Homo sapiens: one gene and its partners. The protein of the gene in region 2 purifies or fractionates together with the protein of the main gene of each other region. This does not show direct contact. Each region holds a gene or a part of one and is shown on either strand. Other genes may lie near its edges.

Region 1 (3,761 bases), on a different chromosome or scaffold from region 2:
GAGTTAGAAGCACAAGAGTTTTGACAGATGCACTGCGTATTCAAAGTAATGGAAAATTTGAATAGTAGAGAAGTTTGGAAAAATGTCTAGACATGATACTTTAGCTACAGTATATAGAAAGTTGTTTGAGACGTCATACTTAAGCCACAGTTGTTTACCCCTGGAGAAATGAGAGTGTTAAAAAAGATATTAAAATCATTGATTTGTTAAGAAATTATAAGAATCTGAACTATCCTAAAAGTAATCTTTGTAAAATGAACGATAATTCCAGGTTATCTGGGATTTTCTGTAGGTTATCTAAAGGAGTAAATGGAAAAGAAATAAAAAAGATTTTATTTATCAAATAAATTTTTCAAAAAACAGAAATGAAGAGAATAGGAAAAAAGTACATACATACACAAACCTTTTTTTTTTTTTTTTTTTTTTTTTTGAGACAGAGTCTTGCTCTGTCTTCCAGGCTGGAGTGCAGTGGTACTATCCTGGCTCACTGCAGTCTCTACCTCTCTACCTCTTGGGCTCAAGCAATCCTCCCACCTCAGCCTCCAGGGACTACAGGCACATGCCACCATGCCTGGCTAATTTTTTTGTATGTTTTTGTAGAGATGGGGTTTCACCATGTTGCACAGACTGGTCTTGAACTCCTGAGCTCCAGCGATCCACCCTCTTGGGCCTCCCAAAGTGAGCCACCACGCCCAGCCTACTTTAATTCTTTGAACATATTTATAACAGCTGCTTTTTTAAGTCTTTGCTAAATATCTCTCTCAATTTCTTACTGTACTTTTCTTAAGAGCCATGCTTTCCTACTTCTTTACATGTCTAGTAATTTTTGGTGGAAAACTTGATATTTCAGATAATATATTGTAGCAACTATGTATTCTAATTTTTTGGAGAGTTGTTGGATTTGCTTTAATAACTTGGCTATGCAAATACTGATGTCTCTGCTTCATTTTTTATTCTTATATTTATTATTATTATTAAACTTGATTTCCAAAGAGTTACCCCTGTGTCTGCATATAATTTAGTGGTCAGGGCTGGGTGCGGTGGCTCACGCCTGTAATCCCAACACTTTGGGAGTCTGAGGCGGGCGGATCACCTGATGTCAGGAGTTTGTGACCAGCCTGGCCAGCATGTGACACCCTGTCTCTACTAAAAATACAAAAAAAAATTAGCCGGGTGTGGTGGCGGGCACTTGTAATCCCAGCTACTCAGGAGGCTGAGGCAGGAGAATCACTTGAACCCGGGAGGTGGAGGTTGCAGTGAGCGAGATCGTGCCACTGCATTCCATCCTGGGCAACGGAGCGAGACTCCCATCTCAAAATAATAATAATAATTTAGTGGTCACCTAATGATTTGAACAGAGGTTATGCTCAAACATCTTGATCGGGAAAAGCCTCACATTGATTTATATGTGAGTTGGGGAATGTAAATACAAAGTTGCTGCTAGTTTTCAAGTCATCCTTAGCTTTTACTTTTTGCCAGACTATTGGATCTTCCCCCTCCATTTGCATAGTAACCCAGTTAGCCAGGGATGGTAGAGAGCTTATTTCCGCCCTTTTATGGCTCTCTAGTTTCCATGATCTCCCTGTTAAATTTCTGGCTGTCTTTCATGACCAGTCAAAATTCTGGCTGGTTTTCGTGACCAACCCTGAACTAATAAAACCATTCTCATCGACCACGTTGGTGGTAGTAGTGGGTGTGTGAATAACCTCGTGCAAAGAGGCCACTGAGTCCCCCTGCCCTAACCTGAAGCTCTAGCACTTCTTCAACAATAAACGTTTCTTGTTTTCTACATTTGATCCATTTCCAGTACCCTGGAATGGTTGTTTTTCACAATCTCATTCAGGTTTGTACTTGTTTTTTGTGGAGAGGAATTACCAGCCTCTTCATGCCACCATAACTAGTAGTCCTTTTCTATGCTTATATTTGTTTACTCAGCTTCATTATTTACATCTTCTGTATCCATGTTTACTTTTCCCTTAAAGGATCTGTCAGAAACTGAGAGAGATTTTAGTCCTCTACAGTTGTGTTTTTATCAATTGATCCTTTTATTTTAAACAGTCTTGCATTGTGTATTTCTGTGTTCTATTAAAATGTTGTGTATTATACTTTTTGGTTAGTATAAAATGTATTACTTTGCCCAGTTTACAGCCATCAATGCTGTTGTTCTTAAATTTTTTACTCATGCTGGATGTTTGTTTGGATTTCTCTGATGTTATTTTAGGCTGGACTTAAATAATAGTGACACAGTTCATCTGTGTCATCAGTTCCAAGACTACTAGTTTTGGTGATTCACTAGAAAGACTCAGAATACTCAGCACATGTACTCATGGGTAAGATTTGTTACAGTGAAGGACACAAAACAAAATTGGCAAAAGAATAAGGTGCTTGGGGCAAAGTCCAGAGGAAACCACGTGCAAGTTTTCAAAAGTCCTCTCCCAATAGAGTCATGCAAGACTTTTAATTCTCCCAGAAACAAGTTGTCACAATGCTTATAAGTGTTGTCTACCAGGGAAGCTCATTAGAGACTCAGTGACCAGAGTTCTACTGGGGGCTGAGTATGTAGGCATCTTTTGCCTAGTACATACTAAAATTCCAGTCTTCCAGAGGGAAAGCAGGTGTCCAGCATTAACCACATCGTTTGCACAATCTAGACACAGTAAAACCACCATTATTAATTAGGGAACAGTGGGAACACTTCCGAAATCCAAGTTCCCAGATACCAGACAAAGGCCAACCTTGCAAGGAGGTTTTCCTAAGTATAGCAGCATCAGGCCTGCAGTATTAACTTCTTTAATTATTTTCTACACAACATCTTTGTCTTTTTTTTTAAATTGAACTACTCCTGGTGCTTCACTCATGAGTATAATGACCAAAGTTCTTTTGTTGTTTTTTTTGCAGTTAAATGATTTAAAATATTTTTCTCTTAATTTGGGAGTAATATAATTTTATTCAAATATGAAATTAGGGATCATCATTTATAGTTTTTGTTTTTGTTTCAAAAATTCTTTGTTGTTTCTCTAAGCCAAAAATAAAGTGTGTGCTTGTTTTGAAACTCTAATAGACAAAATACTGTACTATGATTTAAATTACATGCTTGGAACAGTTTTATATTTGACTATTCTTTGTATCTCCCACACATCATAATGCCTTTGTTCTTTTCTCAGCACGATTACGTGGTGTTCATGATGGTTTGTTCACTGGACAAATAGATGCTGTGGATACTCTTAATGCTACTTATAGAGTAACTTTTGATAGGACAGGGCTTGGAACCCATACCATCCCTGACTATGAAGTTCTCGTAAGTAGTATTTCATAATACATTTGTGTTTTATGCCTGTTAAATGTGTTATATAGAGTTTTTTTAGAAATCGTATTTTATGATAGAATCAAGACTTTATCTCACAGAGGAAGAGATCCTTAGGGGACCCCAGCCCTATCTGCTAGACCCCTGGTTCGGATCTATACTTAAGTCTTCCATTTGCCAGGAACTAGCATTTCTCTGTTGGACCTTAACGACACAGCACTTTAGTATAACCAAACTGATGAGTCCTGACTAAATAACCTTGGAGAAGAAGCTACATAACATTTTCATTGCAGCTGTTAGGTTAAAGTATAGTCCTCTTGCAAAATTGTTTTTAAAGTATAGTAACATCTTGTACTTATTTGTTCTCCTGTTTTATCTTCAGAGGCATGCAAGGTGGGTGTTAATTACCTTCACTTTTGCATGATGAAACTCAGACATAAGTACAATTGCGTAATTT
Region 2 (3,761 bases):
GATTCTTTTTTGTTTTTTACCACTAAACTTTTTGTTTGTTCTGTATATTACAATAGTATAAGGGTAGACTTTGTTCCAGGGTATAATCATATCTGAAATCTAATGTGGCATTTGCCAGTGAGTTTTAACTATGGAATATCATGTGGCACAAGAATGGTTTTTACTTCAATAGGATCATGGTAGCAGAAATGTGGAGAGGACCGTGTGTCATTCTGGCTATGATTTTATATTGTTTACTCTTGAAATAACTCTAAAGATTGATATGTGTATATACAGCCTTAGTAATTAATTTTTCTCATCAGTTTACTCTTAGTTTATCTCTTGATTTATAGGTTCCAAGGAATCCTGATATCCCAAATCCAGCTCTGGCTCAAAGAGAAGAGCAAAAAAAGATTGATGGAGCTGAACCTCTTACACCAGAAGAGACTGAAGAAAAGGAAAAACTTCTCACACAAGTAAAATATTTTCAATGGCTGTAATACTTACAGTCAATCAATAGAAAAAAAGAAAATATAGATCACACTTTTTATTGTATGGGCCTAGTATCCTAGTGTGACACACCAACAAAACTCAGGGCTATTTTGTAAACATGTTTAGACCAAATCTCCTTATTTTTAAAAATTGATCTTATAGAATATGCCCTTTTGGAAATAGTGGATAGTATGTATATGCAAAATATAAGTGTCAAGTATTAGCAATTTGACATACATTTTGCCAATTATAATAAGGTCAGTGAATCCACATTTGAATTCTGATAGACAGTAGTTATTAACATATTCTTTTTTGTTTTTTGAGACAGTCTCGCTCTGTCACCCAGGCCGGAGTGCAGTGGTGCGATCTGAGCTCACTGTATCCTCCACCTCCCAGGTTCAAGTGATTCTCCTGCCCAAGCCTCCCGAGTAGCTGGGATTACAGGCACCCACCACCGTGCCTGGCTAATTTTTGTGTTTTTAGTAGAGATGGGGTTTTGCCATGTTGGCCAGGCTGGTCTCAAACTCCTGACCTCAAGTGATCCACCCACCTCGGCCTCCCAAAGTGCAACTGATACTACAGGTGTGAGTCACCGTGCCAAGCCTGTTATTAACATATTCTTGAAAATTTAAATTTCTTTTGTTTATAGATGTGAATTGTCTCCTGAAGTTATATTCTACTAATTTTTTATTAATGGAATAATTTCATAATTTTCAAAATTCTTTTTATCTTTTTTTATAATTTTCATACAATGATGAGAGATTTCTGAAGCTTTTATTATTATTATTATTATTTAAGGTGATCATTGTATAACAATTATTAAATTAGGAAGGTTTCCATTTGAACAAAATATTAATGCTTTTAAGTCATTATTGCTATCATGAGTTTTACGAGTGTTCTACTTCTAAAATAAACTATAGAAGATAAAAATTTCAGCATAGAAGGCTTGCAAAATAAACAAAATGTGTACCGTAGGACATTACTTTAGTATAGAGGGTTGCCAGCAAGATTTATTTATTCAACAAATTTTGAACAATGTGCGATGCATAGTAGTAGGTAATTCTCCACGTTAATTATTGAAAGATAGTTTTTATATTTGTATATTATTTATTATATAGGTTTTTTTTGCTATAACGTAATTTTATTGTATGGATTTTCACAAATTACATTCATAAGTTTTTGAGCCAAATGCCTGGAAGTAATAAAGTTTAGTTTGAAAATATAATGGCAGATGGCTGAATATTAGAACTTACCACAGAATAAAATAAAACATTTAAATATTCATGTTCTATTTTCAAAATGTATTTCCTGAATGTAAAAGTAAAGTTATGGCTTTAGAATGCTACATGACTTGGAGTATATTGTGAATGTACGGTATAACATGAATATACAGTCTCAACTGAGATAATATTTTAGTTTGTAATTAGAAATATAATCAGTTTTCTGCTTCTCCTAGTATATGAATTCATTTTTGTCCTTCTCTGCTGCCTTAAATAATTAATCTTTTTCAAAAAACCATGGCAGTACGTAGGAACAAAATGTGGGGTCATCTGAAATCTTTATCAACTAAAAGCCAGGGATAGAGTTTTGCAGTGTCTGGAGTATCACATTTATGTGAGTTGGGGCTCGAGGAGTGGAAGACAAATTCTTGGTCTTGTGACTTCACAGACATGCTAATAATGCCAAGGGAATTTAAAACACTGGCTAAAGTGTTTTATGTTTTAGTAAAGAAATTGAGTGGCTCCAATAACGTTCTGCTTGTAGAAGTTCTATTTATGAACATAATTTAGAACAGAAATTATTTATTCACACTAGTTCAGAATGATGTAAAGAGCTACAATTTTTTTTTGCATTATCTTTTGGTTATTCCTCAGTGTTCTTTTGATTTAGTGCATCCACATTTCTCTCTTTTAATTTATGTAGGAACAGATCTGTGAAAAAAATCATTGAAGTACTAGAATATCACGACTTCAGCATTTATATTAGCATTTTTATTTTCATGCATTTGTATTTTAATGTAGGCATCTATAAAATATGAAATTAAAAACTACAGATCTTCGAACTATGTATCAACATTCTCTTTGTAATAGAAAAGCAGTTATTTCTATAACAACTCTCACTCAACTTTTGATTCCAACATAAAATATGTGCAATTTTATAAGGAGAAACATTTTAAGTCTTTTAAAGTGTTTTTTAATGTATCATTGTATAGAAGTAAATAGGGCAATAAATGGATTTATTAATTTAACCTCTATTGATAATGCTTAACTTTTTGTTCACAGGGTTTCACAAACTGGACTAAACGAGATTTTAACCAGTTTATTAAAGCTAATGAGAAATATGGAAGAGATGACATTGATAACATAGCTCGAGAGGTAGAGGGCAAATCCCCTGAGGAGGTCATGGAGTATTCAGGTTTGTATATAATTTGAAACATGGTGTTGTATTTTAACGTTATTCATTTATTTAGCATCAATTTAATTGTACCTTTGTTCAGAGATGTTTTAAACTTTTATGAATAAGACATAGATGAGAGTATAAACTATAATTGTATTTCTATGAAAAGGTTATAAGAAAGGTTATAAGATTTATCCTAACAAACTGACTGCTATTGTCTCTATCACCTAGCTAAAAGAGGCAAATAAAGCTCTGATAAAACAAGGGTGGCTCTTGGATAAGCATTGACAAAATTAGTTTCCCACCTTCCCACCTCTGGAATTTGGTCTTCTGGTTCAGTTCTGAGATTCACATTCAGTGGATTGAATTCGTGCCTTTCTTTCTAGGTCGTCCTTAAAGTAGAGAGTTCCTGTCAGGCCCATTTAGATGCTCAAACACCCTCAGAGTTCCACCCTATTCCAGAGAGTTCCTGTGGGTCCCATTAACTTGGGGCTAGCGGGCGTAGAGCTGAAAAGATTGCTTTAATCAATCTGTTAACTGGTCCTCAAATCCTCTCCCTCTCTTACTCACCTGTGTTGTTGAGCTCGACCAGAATCAGTTTAGCTGCTGAAGCATATGGATTTTTTTTACACTTACTGGTTTATTATAAAGGGTATTGTAAAGGATACAGATGAAGCGTGTAGGGCAAAGTATGGGCCAAGAGGGCGCAGCGCTTTGGTGCCCTCCCTGGGCGAAACCTCTTCGTGTTTAGCTATCCAGAAATCTTATTAAAAATAGGTAAATATGTCTAGCAAGTTTTCTATATGTAGTACATGGGACTTTTCTAACTTCCAAATAGGTTCAGCTCTTAAACTTATCATTTGAAACAAGATGTTTAGAATCTAGAGCATTTT
Region 3 (3,761 bases), on a different chromosome or scaffold from region 2:
AAGGGAAAAGTTCTCTCTGCACAGTAAGCTTTATTCTCATTTGATCAGAACAAAAATCTTGGGGATTGTACAGGAAGGATCAAAGGGAAGAAACACAGAACAATTTGAATGCCATAAATCTGATAGGAATGGCTAATTAAATTTTATAACCTCTGCTTATGTCAATAGAGACCCTCTCCCCAAGCTGAAACTAGGTGTTTTGTTGTAATAATTAAAGGCGAAGTCTCGCTTGCTTTAATGGAGCCATCACACTAATTGAGGGCTACACATCCAAAGGAAAACAATAATGAATGTAAATTTATACCAAAATAAAGTACAGTGAATCAAAGGACTTCAGTTGCGCTTTGGGCCTCTTTCGGTATTTAGATCTCGGTGAGAAAACATTAAATTAACAGAGCTTAATTTGTAGCCTTTTGTCAAATTAACAAGTGTTGACAAGAGTTACCGGGGGGAGAGTCCCCAAGAAGAATTGTGGGTAACCAATAGACAATCACACCTCATTACAATAATTAAAAAATACAGCAACATGCAAAATAGCATCCTCATGAAAGACACACAACTTTTTCTGACAGAGGGTTGTCTGAGTTGGCTATTCCTTTTTATCTAGCCTTCAAATATCTCCCCATCAGCCGAATGGGGCAAATGATCACTGAGAACTATTCGAGGGTTGGCCCCATCTATTTAGAAGAAATGGGTCACAAGCTCATGTTCATGTCTACCGTCCCAATAAAAATAAGAAGAGACAGAGAAACAGAAACTATACCCAGGGTTGGTATTTGGTACAGCTACTACATAATGCAATCTGTTTTTTATTAAAAAAAAAAAAAACAGCATAGAATCTATCTAACTAGAGAAATACGGGTAGAATTGTGGGGTAAGCCACTCCAAAATTTTATCTTCCTTAAGGCTTTGAAAGGCCATCTTCCCTAAGACTCAAACCTGAGTTTTACCAGGATTTATTCCTTTTAGCATTCAATGTATTGTCCTGTGTTGTTCAGAGTACAGATCACTGGTAAGGAGAAATACATCCACAGAAACAATCACGAAACACATATTACACACATGCTCATGCAAAAATATACATACACACAACCTGCCACAGTATGCTAATGCATCAAAGGCCTTTCTACTCTGAATTTAAAACACAGTTTTTTTAAGTTGCAAAAGTTAGTCAAATAATCTGGGCACTGCCAGGAGCTAGGATTGATGCTTACGAAGGCCCCACATGCTGCAGTGACGGTTCCAAATGCCCCATTCCCACCGTTCACAGTTAGGTAAAACATTCAACGTGCAAAGACTCTCAGAGAGATGCTGATTCAGTCCCATGGAGCTTCTCAACAGACAAAACTTTCCACTGTTGTTGTCAACCTTGGGAGTAATGTTCAGGATGAGGTGGGGGGTCCTGGAATCATACAAGAACATGCCCTAATCCCAACCCTGGATTTCAAAACAAGGCCGTTCTTGTTCCTGCTTCTGTGCCCCAAAATATGTAACACCTAAAATGGAGGACTCGACAGCCTCAACCCAATGACATGACTGCAGTTTGGGCAGCCAACAGCAGAAGGGTCATGACCAGCTTCATTGGGTGGAAGTTCCAGTAGTCTTCTGCAATTCCCAAAGGAACTGCAGGGCACCTCTGTCCACAGAGCCTCTGGGGACCATGGTCGCGGAATGCTAAGTGCCAGTAACATAAGCCACCTGAATGGCTGTGGATTTGCCTGTATTCCCACAGGACACCTCAGCAACACCTTTTCTGTGCCCTCCCGCAGCCCCCTCCCCAACCCTGGCTTCTAACACACACACATACACACACACACACACACACACACACACACACACACAGACACACACACAGAATAAATAATAAACATGCCCATGTAAGAAACAAAAAGGAAATTAAAAAATGGAACTCCTTACTGTGGTACTAACCATCCTAGCGGATGGGGGATTTGTCCTACGGTGCCAGGCGATAGTGGGTAATACGGGGATATATCTGGAGGGTGCGGAGGCCGTGGGATTCCTGAGGGAAGAAGCAGCATTTTAGGTACAAAGGAGGGAGAGAAGGAAAGAGCAATCCATTAGGGGATGGGAACAGGGAAAGGAGGAAGAGACGCATCTCTTCTGGAATCCTAGCACAAGGTTCATTCATGATTATAAATCCTGAGTTGTTGGTAGGTTTCATCTCATTTTCCCTCAGCCTCAGTTTGAAAAATTAGTTTATCTCCTTCTAAATGGACTGGTATACTGAGTAGACTCAAGATATGCCATCTTGGGTATTTGTGCCTCATGTGACTGGTGTGATTGTTTCAAGTTTAAAAGAAACAACATCAAAAAGGCTCAGCACCTGGTGGAGAATGAAGCAATGGTAATCCCTGTTGCTCTTACAACTCTGGCCCTTCACCCTGCGGAGTTTCATGCCTTACCTGCACAAGAGCTACTCCTCTGATTTCTAACACACTTTTTGAGCTGTGGCATTTGAAAAGTTACTACCCTTGCCTTTTTTCAAAAATGGTGACTCCTCTAAAATGTCTCTGCCTCTATTTGGATGAGCTGGAGAAACTGATCAAATGCCATCTGGCATCTTATCTAAGGCAGAGTCAGAGCTGAACAGACAAGGAGGTGTTGGAGGCTTGTGTACTCCATTCTGGAACTTCATCCGCTAGAGGACAGAGTCGTCTGTGGGGATTAAGCCCACCTGCTGAATGGGCACCGCGTGCGTCGCAGGGGCTAAGAGCTTCACAAGGCACACATGAGCGGATTCTGCAAGTACGTGCCACCGCACATCTGCCAGTTCCACAGGAGCACATCCTGTAGTCCACTCTGACAGAGAGGAATTGATGTATGCCATTGAAGTGGGAGGCAAAAGGCACAATACCACAGAATTAAAACAGAGTAATGGAGGGAACGGGCTGCATGTTCGTGGACGAAAACGACTTCATTTTTTAAAAAATTCATTCAGGAAGCTTTTAATCTGTAAATTAAGTCTCCCTGGGTGACATTTTCATGCAGACATTGCTTTCTCTCTATTACAAAAACCAAACAGATTAGCTGGGCTTGGACCCTACATCGAGCCATTTGCACACTTGAAAGAATGTTCGCAGAGGAAAAGTAAACAGTCCACAGACGTTAATCATATGTTTTACGATAACCATTTAAAAGCTATTCCCTGTACTACCATTATTTAAATGAGACGTTGACGCTGCCATTCACTGGTGGAGCCTGGGGCCGGCTGGAGGAGGCCACCAGGCATCCAAGCGCCAGGCTCAGTCCTGCACCAGCACAAAGGGGCTCAGAGACCAGTAAAACCCAGCTCATGTGTGGCTTCGTTCAGGGGCAGTGAAGGCCGCCTAACCAGGCAGCCTACCTACCCCAACACTACCAATCCCCTCTAACAAAGTGATGTGCAATCACCACTTTAAACCCATCCTTCCAATTACTGAGCTAGGAAGGGGAAATCCTACCAACACACTGGGTAGCCTGAAAGACACACACTAACCTTACCTGTTCTCCCAAGACCACCCCACCAGGCTGCTGGGGCTGCCTGCCTGATTTAGATCTTGTTGGAGGAGAGCTACAAGTAACCCCACCTTCCCTCCCTCTCCCCTTTGGGAAAAAAGCAGTCAATGAACAACTGGGATAAAAAGGGGATGCTGGGCTGGGTGTGGTGGCTCATGCCTGTAATCCCAGCACTTTGGGAGGCCGAGGTGGTCAGGAGTTCGAGACCAGCCTGGCCAGCATGGTGAAAACCTGTCTCTCCTAAA
Region 4 (3,761 bases), on a different chromosome or scaffold from region 2:
GAGGATTGTGTCCCAGATGACTCCACGACTGAGGCTGGGGGAAAGGCCAGTGAGGTATCCAGAGAACCAAGAGAGTGGTGGTCCTTTGGCAAAGTAAAGAAACTGCTTCAAGGAGGGCATGATCAGCTGTGTCCAGAACTCCTGATGGGTTGGATAAAATGAGGACTGAGAATGGAACATTCCATCTGCCAAGGCAGAGGTCTTGTGATTGTGACAGCAAGTGGAGTAGTGGGGACAAATGTCTAACAGAGTTCCTAAGAGAATGGAAGGAGATGGAGAGACAGGGAGACTATTAGCAACTCTTTCAAGTTTACCTGTAAAGAAAAAGAAATGGAGAAGAGACTGGAAGAAAACACAGGGACAAGAGGGGATTCTTAAAGACGGAAGCTGTAATCGCGGTTTCGTGCTAGTAGGAATGGTCCCCAATGCTGCTGTCGCGACAGTCCCACTTGCTGCACTGCAGAAGCGGACCCCTCTACTGCAGGCACTAGGAGAGTTAAGAAAGGTTCCACGGAGGAGGCAGAGCTATTCTGACTTCTTCTCCAGGCTACATTACCTGGCTGTTCCCCCAATCACTTGCAAATACTGACTTAGCACCCACTATCTGCCAGTACTAGGTAAACAAGACTGTCACGATCCTTACCCATAGAGAGCTTCACTTTAATACAAGCCACACACAAGCAGGAAGGCAACGAAACTGTAGAACATTGATGGCTGTGTTTATGGAAGTGAGTGTGGTACGGAAGCATCTCATATGGGTTTGATTAATCAGGAAAGGCTTCTTAGAGAAAGGACTAAGCAGACAGAACCTGAAGAATACAAGAATTAAGGACAGAAGAGGAAAAGCAAGCAGAAAAGAGTCAAAACATAGAGAACACTGTAAATTAATGTGGACTTATCTGGGGACAGTGGGGAGCCACTGAAGGTATCTGAAAGCAGGAGACTGCCATCTGGGAGATTCGGCTGCAGGGTGGGTGAAGGGATGGGGGAAGGTCATCACTGGAGGCCGAGGAGCAAGACTGGCAGAGCAGAATGAGAATGGAGATGCTGGCTGCTGTGCTAAGAAGGAAAGGGGAAGAGGCAGTGGAGGCAGAAAAGAGCAGCCAGACCCTCACGATCTGAGAGGCCTGCTACTGGACATGGGGACTGCGTGGATACAGTGGGGAAGAGGTCAATGCCAAGTATTACTCATACAAGCTCACTTATTCAGTCCTAGCCTCCTTGCTGTTTCCCAGGAATATCGGGAATTACTGTTTCCCATCTGCTACTCCATTTACTAGCAATGAGGTTTCTGTTTCCAAACAGAAACAGCCTTCTCTCCCCCTAGACTAATTTCATAAATTCCATGAGCTTTCCACAAAGTGGGAAACCAGTCATTCGACAGTAGTAACATATTTCAAATTAGGAGCTACCTCTCTTTTCAAAGATATTTTCAATAGAGACCCCGAATACTGCCAAAAGAGTTGAAATGAGACAACAGAAAACGCCAACTCTAAGGCTCAGAAATTTCCTAACAGACTTTATTTTCAGTCAAAATCTGTGGCTTCTTTTGATGGGGAAAAAATGTCTTTCCCCATGACTGGTAAACAATCCCAGATATAAAACTGTCCAAAGTAACATAAACCGAAGTCTGCACAGCTCCATTAACAAGCACGGCCCATGCCAGAGTGGATCCACGCACTTTATGTGGTCTCTGGAGTTTTGAACATAAAGGGAGGTTTGGGAGCACAAAGAAGAGTCTGAACTGTTTGCTCATGGTATAGACCATTTGCTGAGGACAACGCAGAACATTCAGCGGAAGCCTACGACACCACTTTGACCAGCTGTGCCAAATACTGGGGGGTGAAGAGCAAGTGTCATTTTTCTTTTTTTTTTTTTTTTGAGACGGAGTCTCGCTCTGTCGCCCAGGCTGGAGTGCAGTGGCACGATCTCGGCTCACTGCAAGCTCCGCCTCCTGGGTTCACACCATTTTCCTGCCTCAGCCTCCCGGACTACAGGCGCCCACCACCACGCCTGGCTAATTTTTTTGTATTTTTAGTAGAGACGGGGTTTCACCATGTTAGCCAGGATAGTCTCGATCTCCTGACCTTGTGATCCACCCGCCTCGGCCTCCCAAAGTGCTGGGATTACAGGCGTGAGCCACCGCGCCAGGCCAGCAAGTGTCATTTTTCATGGGACCTGATGTTGTGTCAGGAGAAAAATAATTGTCTCGAATTACTGAAGGGGAGTAGGTGACTGCTGAATCTGTTTTCTAATTCTACCGCCAAAGGTAGTGAGGTTCCTTAGTAATTTTTGTTGTTCAAAAAAAACTCTCGGCACACCTGCAATGAGGAGGCAGAACTTAGTCTTAAGACTCTGGGAAATGAACTTGACTATTCTTGTTTCACAGAAAATTATATCTTTTATGAATGTTATCATCACAAACAGTGCTTAAAAATGGTTATGAAAGGCATCCAAAATATTCTGGTTATTTTCCTCTACAAATATTTCTTAAAAGAGTCACAAACCTGTCTTCTGAAATTTGCCTACTTGGCTCACTATAAACAACTCAAGTAAGCTGCAATCTGCAAAAATTTGCCCATGGCAAATTAAGACACACCTCCTTCCCTTCTGTATCAATAGTCTCAATATGGTGGCCCAACTGCAATGAGCAGAGGGCAAGCTGTCTTTCTGATTAACTTTCAATCCATGCCTCTTGGTTGGATTCTTACGTCGTGGCAGGCCTAGAATATTATCACCAGAGGGACTATAAAGGAGAAAATTTTAAGGGGACAAACACGAAGAGACAAAATAAGAATTTAAATTCCAACAAAAAACAGAAACACACTTCATTCTGTATACTTTTTGTTCTGTTATACAAAAATCAAAGTCTCTGACATTGTAAGTAAATGCTTAATTTGAAGTATAAAACGTACATGTATTAAAGTGTACAAATAGTTGAGTATATAGCAAGATAAAATTTTCACTAAATATATATACCCATGTGACCATTCCACAGATGAATAATAGAAAACAGCGAGCACCCCAGGTGCCTCCTCATGTCCTTGCTATCACTATTTTTTGATGGTTTTGAACTTCATGCTATTTTTAAATGCAATCATATGTTTCATTTTATTATCATTATTTTTATTTTTTTAGAGACAGTCTCGCCCTGTCACCCAGGCTGGAGTACAGTGGGGGGATCACAGCTCAATGTAGCCTCTAACTCCTGGGCACCAGTGATCCTCCCACCTCAGCCTGTCAAGTAGCTAGAACTACAGGCACATGCCATCATCTTAGTGAATTTTCTTATTTTCTTTTGTAGAAACAGGGTCTCACTATGTTGCCCGGGCTGGCCTCAAACTCCTGGCCTCCAGAGATCCTTCTGGCTCAGCCTCCCAAAGTGCTGGGATTACAGGTGTGAGCCACCACACCTGGTCTCATTTTATTTTAACAAAGGAACAAGTTCATTTTTAAGAAGAAAAGTCTTTCACAATTGTTTGAAGGGAAGGTAGCATATAGAAGGCTCAGCTTACCACATTAAATTTAGGCAGCTTTTTTGCTGTTTAACCTCGTAAAGATCCTAAATGATTCTCAGAAGGACAATATAAAGAGATACAAAGTTAAATTCACTGGGTACATACACACCCAATTCAGACCAAGCCAATATCACAAGCTTACCTTCTGCAGAATCTCTCATATTTGCAGAGGTGAAATCTGGCTCACTTGTCTTCAGTTGTATGTCTTGGATTTTGTTTCCTTTGTTTTTATTTTCCTGGGAT
Region 5 (3,761 bases), on a different chromosome or scaffold from region 2:
TGCTGGGTTCAAAACAAAAGAAATTAACAGCAAGCGCGGGGTGGATGTTCAAAAAAACCACAAACCTGATTTCATGGAAACACACCTTTCCCGAGAGCAGTGATTCTCAGCTCGGGAGATGCAGGGAGAGCCCCCAATTAGCCAACGGTTTCATTTTCTCCTCGTGGGTTAAAATGATTAGTTTATGTTTAATGTTGTGTCGAGGCATTATTTACCTGCACTGAGTGGGGAGTGTGTGACCTGAATGTGCAGCTGCTGCCTGAGTACCCACGGGAGGAGGAAGGCGCCGCTCTTACCTGCATGAGCTCAACGTTTCCAAAGAACCGGCTCACGGGCATTGGCTGATTGCTGTCGTCATCTAGAAAGACGCTGTTGTCCATCTGAAGTGGTGGCTTCTGCACATCCTCTGTCTGTAGCCCTGGCTCATTCTGCTTCTGCACAGTGGAGCTGCTGTTGGATTCTTCTGCTCCGGACCCGGCACTGTGTTTTGGCACGGACAGGCCATCTCTAGTCTTTGCTAAGCGAGAGTCACTCACAACTCTGCAGCCACCGAGAGGAAGACTTGCAGCCCCCTGCTGCACAGAAACGCCAGCCTCGCTGCCTGGAAGCAAGGCACTGCCTTCAGCAAACTCATTTTCACAAGGGGTCTCAGGTGTCACTTTTGGCAAAGAAGCGCTGTCATTCTTAGGGACAAGCTTCTGTAATTCTGACTTCACAAGATGTCCTTTGTCACATTTGAACTTCTTGGACGTTCGCGTGTCTGTGGCTTTGTGGGATGAGGAAGTCTGTCAAGAAAAAAAATGTAAGGGGAACCAGACATATCTAGCAAATAAAACAGGCCTCAATCCAGAGGCTAGTATTTCTTCTCACATCGGAAATGATAAAGATGCTGTGACCACAACTTTCACAGATCGTCATTTCACTGTTTTGCCACCAAGGGACAAAATACAAGCGAGACTGAATCTAGACACACCCCACACCACTCCTACACTTTCAGTTTTCCCTAGTGGCGTTACAGCTCCACACCACTCCTACACTTTCAGTTTCCCCTAGTGGCGTTACAGCTCCTCAGGTGAATTCTGAAGCATATATTTATATATTATACAATTACAGTAAAAGAATCCAGCTTTCATTCATTTCTGCTAGGGCATAAGCTCTGTGAAGGCAGGGGTCTTTGCTTTATTCACCAATTAGTGCCTGGCACACAGTAGGTGCTCAAGAAATATTTGTGAAATTGACTTCGACAAAATTTTACCAAGCACCTCATCATGAGCAAAGCTCTGTGCTACACGCTGGCATATGGCCAAGTCCTAACCCCTCAACTGTAGGCTCCGTGAAGCGGCTCTACTTCACCGGTAAGTTCAGGAACTCGCTCCTCGGAATCGATGGCTGGGCTAGGGTGAACGGCAGACGGCATGAGATTCCTTTCCCCACCCACTCTGCCTTTCTCTTCAAGCCTCTGGCGGTGAGGCTGCACGGCAATGGGCCAGCATGACTCCATAGCACGCTAAGAGCAGAGCGATGAGCACAAGTGGCCTCAGAGCCTGGTTTAGACACACACACGGGTGGGCAGGTGCTAGGATCAGAGCCCGGGTCTAGACACACACACGGGTGGGAGGGTGCTAGGATCAGGGCCCGGGTCTAGACACACACACGGGTGGGCGGGTGCTAGGATCAGAGCCCGGGTCTAGACACACACACGGGTGGGCGGGTGCTAGGATCAGGGCCCGGGTCTAGACACACACACGGGTGGGCGGGTGCTAGGATCAGGGCCCGGGTCTAGACACACACACGGGTGGGCGGGTGCTAGGATCAGGGCCCGGGTCTAGACACACACACGGGTGGGCGGGTGCTAGGATCAGGGCCCGGGTCTAGACACACACACGGGTGGGCGGGTGCTAGGATCAGGGCCCGGGTCTAGACACACACACGGGTGGGCGGGTGCTAGGATCAGGGCCCGGGTCTAGACACACACACGGGTGGGCGGGTGCTAGGATCAGGGCCCGGGTCTAGACACACACACGGGTGGGCGGGTGCTAGGATCAGGGCCCGGGTCTAGACACACACACGGGTGGGCGGGTGCTAGGATCAGGGCCCGGGTCTAGACACACACACGGGTGGGCGGGTGCTAGGATCAGGGCCCGGGTCTAGACACACACACGGGTGGGCGGGTGCTAGGATCAGGGCCCGGGTCTAGACACACACACGGGTGGGAGGGTGCTAGGATCAGGGCCCGGGTCTAGACACACACACGGGTGGGAGGGTGCTAGGATCAGGGCCCGGGTCTAGACACACACACGGGTGGGCGGGTGCTAGGATCAGGGCCCGGGTCTAGACACACACACGGGTGGGCGGGTGCTAGGATCAGAGCCCGGGTCTAGACACACACACGGGTGGGCGGGTGCTAGGAGAGCCAGCCCTGGCCTGCAGAGTGTGTCTTTCTCTGAAGGCAATTACAGTGCTGTCACCTTTTCATCTGCAATAGTCCCCCTCTGGCAGATAAGTAACAGTCGATATTTTTCTAAAGCAACACATCTTGGAGTGGCAATTTTGTATAAAAATGGACCCTCGAGTCAGGATCTTGGCGTTCTCCACGGTAACAGGGCTCACCAGACATGCTGTCTTGGCAGACGTGGAACCAGCAACTTCCTGGGCAGAGGCCAACCTGGCTGCCGAACAACTTCGTGCTTTCAAGCGCGCTGAAGACCGCACTGCACCTGTGAGCTAGAGAGATTGAGAGCCACTCAGAGAGTGCTCTCAGGAAGGCAGCATGAACATGTAGACGAGAATTTCCCACCTAAAGAACACCCGAAGACCGCCCCTCCCACTCCCAGGATTTTATCATCTTTGTGGAGACAGCTGTGGCCCGAATGTGTAAATCCAAATGAAACTGTGCCTGGATTTAGGATACAGGATCTACTATTTCCACGATTTTGGAGGCTTGGGACGATCTGTCCCCCTTATCTTGTATATTTCTAGTAGCCACCATTTGTCCTTTAGTGGAAATTAAGTCAACTTCAAAGTGTTTAGAATAAGCAGCACATGCCCTTCCTTAGAAGGCTCTCCAACTTTCATACGTTGTCAAAGTTTTTAAAAAAAGGTAACATGAGGAAACCAAAGTTTCTCTTCCTCAAATTAGACTCCTATTCTATTAGCTGAATGCAGCTAGCGACTGTCTCACAAATTTTAATATTAACAAACTGGTCCACCTCTCTTTTATCCTGAATGCAAAGCAAACTCCTCTAATAACAAGAAAGAAATTAATTAAAGACATAACATTTAAAATAACTATTTAGGAATAATTTTCGGCATTCAGAAAGTTGCAAAAAATAGTACAAAGAAACTGGTGTGATAGCTCACACCTGTAATCCCAGCTACTTGGGAAGCTGAGGTAGGAGGATCGCTCGAGCCCAGGAGTTCAAGACCAGCCTGGGCAATACAGCGAAAGCCCATCTTTAAAAAATTTTTTTAAAAATTAGCCAGGTGTGGTGGTGTGCACCTGTAGTCCCAGCTATGTGGGAGGCTGAGGTGAGAGGATCACTTGATCCCAGGAGTCTGAGGCTGTAGTGAGCTATGACTGCACCACTGCACTCCACCTGGGTGACAGAGTGAGACAGTGTCTCTGAAAAAATAATAATAATAAAATAGTACAGGGAGTTGCCATGTAGCCTTCACTCAGCTTCCACTAATGTTAAACAACTACAGGACATTGTCAACATTAAGAAATTAGTGACATTACGGTACTCTTCACTAAACTATAG
Region 6 (3,761 bases), on a different chromosome or scaffold from region 2:
AGTTAATCTGCTATTAGAACCATGGATAAAGATATTCTGTAACTATGCAGTTGTACGTATACACATAGATAACCCATAAGCCATCATTTCCAGATTCTTATTAGAAACAAGCTGAAGACGTGTACACATCTGTCAGATACACACGTGGGTGCACACAGACATCTATGTAACAGATGAACAGCAGTCCACTTTCCAACTGCAGGGACCTCTTTAAGGATGCCGTTGCTGGATGCTCATCAAATATAAATCCTTTTATCTCTGACAGTATCTAAACAAAGTCTCTTTGTAAAGAGACTTCAAACTTCTGGCTTAGAAGCTGAGGAGGGAAGAGAGAATGAGAGAGAAGAAAACAGTAGGAGAGAAAAGAAAAGAACGTGTGGGCGTGGATGTGAAAGTGAGGAACTAAGAAACCAGGCAGTTTGAAACGACCCCCTCAGAGCCGGGGCATGGGGAGGACTCCTACTCACATCCATTGGACGTTGTTTTTAGACTTCTTCTTAATGAGGTGGATGCCTTCCAGAACGTTGGTGATATCATAAATCCTTCTCTTTTGCACTTTTAGCACTTCTGCTGCCTTGTTCAAATCCAATACCCCATCGGGTGACTGGCTCAGGAGCTGAATGAACTTCTTGGTGAGCAGACCAAGAGACGTATCATACCGCGTTTTTTCTGAGGGAGATTTTGGAGCTTAAAGAAAAACAAAAACCGAGCGGGTGGGGGATAGGGGGAAAGGTAAAGAAATGAAGGGTGTCTTTGCAGTCAAGCAAGCTCTCTTTCCCACTGCAGCCAAAGTATTAGTATCTGAAGCAAGGCTGTCGTTGCTGTTGGTGTTGGCAAGTCATAGAAAGCTATGAAAGTTTTTTATTAGAGCAGGAAGGGAAGGTAAAAATTCCAGGGTTTGATTAAAGCATTTCACCTTGAATTTCTCAAGAGTTTCTACCTTGACTTACACCATTCCCTGGCTCCAATGAAGAATTTACATATAGCGGGCGCTAAAAAATATCTGTCAAATGAATGAAAGAGTGCTGTGGCCTCAGGGGACCAGCACACACGAGGCCTACGGTGATGGAGCCAGGCTATGAGTCTCACTAGCACTGCAGGACAAGGTCTTAAACAGACCCATCTCAAATGGCCTTTCAGGCTCTGGTATCTGTGTGTGCGTGTATCACCTGTTCACCAATTTTCCAAACAATGCTTCATTTTGATAAATAATTACCTGGAAAAGTCTTCTGCCAAATCTCCCCATCTCTCTTAAAGGAAATTTCCTTACTTAATATTGTACTTGTTCCCCCATAGGTGCACAGGTCAAGGTTTTAATTTAGTGTCACACAATTTGTGGATTGCCTAATGCATGAACTAAAGGAAGAGAGAGAACAAAGTCTAATTTAGCCCTTATGTTAAATGCAAACACATACATAATGGGACTAGTTGGCTATTTCTAACCTACGTTTCTCTCTCTCCCACAAGAAACGGTAATAGTATTTGATAGAAAGAGAAACAGCCTGCAATTTATCGGGCTCAATCAATTCTTACGCTATCATATGCTGAGCTGGAGATTGAGGTCGGCACAGACACTGGTGACTCTGGCATAGTTCGTGGACATCCAGTTTGCCTCAGACTCTGAAGCAATGTCCATTAAGGGAAGTTAAAATTAAATTTGATATAGAATGGTGCCAAAAGTTCGTATTCCGAGTTGAAAAATGAAACTACATACAGTTAAAAGAAGTCTTCCCTTATGGTACCAGTGTGACTCTGTAGCCTTTCACTGGTTGTCTGCTGACATTGTATTTATTTTTTTGGATAAGCACAGAAAGAAATGAAAAAGAACAAAACATGCCAGAATTATTCACACCTTGGCATCCTTCCGGCCATAAGCTTTGAAACTTGGAAATGCCATACCAAGGAGAATAAGGAAAGAGATGAAAAGATCCTTACTTTTTGGACTATCTGGACTTCGTAGTGCAGCTCTTCCTTTGCCCTTGGGGGTTTTTAAACCATCTGAGAGGTACTGATGACCGCTTTCTCCTAGCTCCAGCCTTCGCTTTGCCTGTAATAAGAAAGTGCGATCTCTCGTCACCGGTCATATGGACAAGAACAAGAAGGGAGGCAGTTTGTGGGCTGGCCTGCCAAATGCTGCAGGCTCATGCCAGCTCTCACCCCTCTGCTCCACCCCACTCAGCATCTTGTCATTCCCTAGAGCCAGGATTCTAGCGTTGTAGGCTGGGTTGTCATGCACACTCTCTTCACCTGCCGTGATCATCCGTCCACACCCAGATGGACAAACACAGCGATCCTTCAGCATTAGGTTCAGGAGTCACTTTGTTCATTGATTCAACACATCATGTGCCTGGCATGGGGTTGGATGCTAAGAATATCACAGGCGCCGTGGGGCTTAAATTCCCTTTCCACAGTGAGTCTTTCCTGCCCATCTCCCATTCTCCGACCTGGGTTGGACCCCCTTCCTTGTGCTCCCCAAACACTCTGTGTTTATTTGTATCATGACACTTATTCGGTATTACTGTAAGACTTATCTGTTTCTCATTTCCTTTAAGGCAGGGACTGTTTCCCATTTATCTTTGTATACCCAGTGCTTGGCACAGAGCCTGGGTTTCTGTAGATTTTCAATCACTCTCTCTATATACTGTATATTCAATGAGAGAAAGGGTGATTGGATCGTAACACAACTAGTCACAGACTACAAACGGCCCTTCATCGGGAAAACAAATACTGCAAACATGCAATCTTGGGCTTCAACCACTATTACTTTCTCCATTTTCTTATCAAGCCTAGCAAATGAGAAGCCCTTATCTAAGTTTTTAATTTAACTCCAATTAAATTTTAAAATATCCACATAGCGTCTTCTAGGTACCTAGGCATTGGGCTTAGTAAGCAAGATAGATAAGGGGCTTCGAGTCCAAGAGAAAAGATAGATGGTTAAGCAGTTGTTAAGTACTAATTGTATGGGTATGACAGGTGTTTTAGAAAATAAATGGCACCAACTGGACACTCAGCACAAAAATATGTATTTAGGCTCATTTTCAGGCAGATTCTTCTAATGAGGAGATTTGCAGTTTCTTTTTTTTAAGACAGAGTCTTGCTCTGTCGCCCAGGCTGGAGTGGAGTGGCGCGATCTTGGCTCACTGCAACCTCTGCCTCTGAGTTCAAGTGATTCTCCTGCCTCAGCCCTCCCCAAGTAGCTGGGACTGCAGGTGCACGCCACCACTCCCAGCTAATTTTTGTATTTTTAGTAGAGACGGGGTTTCGCCATGTTGGCCAGGCTGGTCTCGAAGTCCTGATCTTTGGTGATCTGCCCACCTTGGCCTCCCAAAGTGATGGGATTACAGGCGTGAGCCACTGTACCCAGCCGAGAGTTGCAATTTCAAAACAACTCCCCGTGATGTGAAAACGTAAGTAATAACTTATCAGCGGAAGCTAGATATTCAGCCCCTCTATGGAAAGTTACCAGCTAACCCTGCACCGTCTACTACGATAGCCACTGGTTACTAGCTCATCCAAACTGACATGTGCTATAATTGTAAAATACACACTGAATTTCGAAGACTTAGTACAAAACAGGGTAAAATATCTCAACAATTTTAGTAGTGATCACATGTTAAATGAAATAAATAAAATACAACTGACCCTTGAACAACATGGGTTTGGACTGTCCGTTTCCACTGATTTTATTTTTTTAGAGACAGGGTCTTGCTCTGCCGCCCAGGCTGGAGTGCAGTGGTGTGATCTCAGCTCACTGCAACCTT

The links.
Region 1: the proteins of SMARCA1 (region 2) and LIN9 purify together in Homo sapiens (affinity purification with mass spectrometry, with the first as the bait; one large-scale study listed by BioGRID). This does not show direct contact.
Region 3: the proteins of SMARCA1 (region 2) and TCF7L2 purify together in Homo sapiens (pull-down; one large-scale study listed by IntAct). This does not show direct contact.
Region 4: the proteins of SMARCA1 (region 2) and PRDM2 purify together in Homo sapiens (affinity purification with mass spectrometry; one large-scale study listed by BioGRID and IntAct). This does not show direct contact.
Region 5: the proteins of SMARCA1 (region 2) and C1orf174 purify together in Homo sapiens (co-immunoprecipitation; one large-scale study listed by IntAct). This does not show direct contact.
Region 6: the proteins of SMARCA1 (region 2) and E2F3 purify together in Homo sapiens (pull-down; one large-scale study listed by IntAct). This does not show direct contact.

Annotation. Positions count from the first base shown.
Region 1 is NC_000001.11:226,267,494-226,271,254, reverse strand, and holds part of LIN9 (protein lin-9 homolog), read left to right. Parts: intron 1-3,164; coding exon 3,165-3,298; intron 3,299-3,761. UniProt on the Homo sapiens protein: Acts as a tumor suppressor. Inhibits DNA synthesis. Its ability to inhibit oncogenic transformation is mediated through its association with RB1. Plays a role in the expression of genes required for the G1/S transition.
Region 2 is NC_000023.11:129,467,898-129,471,658, reverse strand, and holds part of SMARCA1 (SWI/SNF-related matrix-associated actin-dependent regulator of chromatin subfamily A member 1), read left to right. Parts: intron 1-332; coding exon 333-455; intron 456-2,753; coding exon 2,754-2,886; intron 2,887-3,761.
Region 3 is NC_000010.11:113,142,182-113,145,942, reverse strand, and holds part of TCF7L2 (transcription factor 7-like 2), read right to left. Parts: intron 2,021-3,761; coding exon 1,918-2,020; intron 1-1,917. UniProt on the Homo sapiens protein: Participates in the Wnt signaling pathway and modulates MYC expression by binding to its promoter in a sequence-specific manner. Acts as a repressor in the absence of CTNNB1, and as activator in its presence.
Region 4 is NC_000001.11:13,773,088-13,776,848, reverse strand, and holds part of PRDM2 (PR domain zinc finger protein 2), read right to left. Parts: coding exon 3,661-3,761; intron 1-3,660. UniProt on the Homo sapiens protein: S-adenosyl-L-methionine-dependent histone methyltransferase that specifically methylates 'Lys-9' of histone H3. May function as a DNA-binding transcription factor.
Region 5 is NC_000001.11:3,890,273-3,894,033, forward strand, and holds part of C1orf174 (UPF0688 protein C1orf174), read right to left. Parts: intron 2,725-3,761; coding exon 2,611-2,724; exon of another isoform or gene 2,477-2,610; coding exon of another isoform or gene 2,469-2,476; intron 1,508-2,468; coding exon of another isoform or gene 1,354-1,507; intron 786-1,353; coding exon 297-785; intron 1-296.
Region 6 is NC_000006.12:20,478,132-20,481,892, reverse strand, and holds part of E2F3 (transcription factor E2F3), read right to left. Parts: intron 2,048-3,761; coding exon 1,936-2,047; intron 688-1,935; coding exon 468-687; intron 1-467.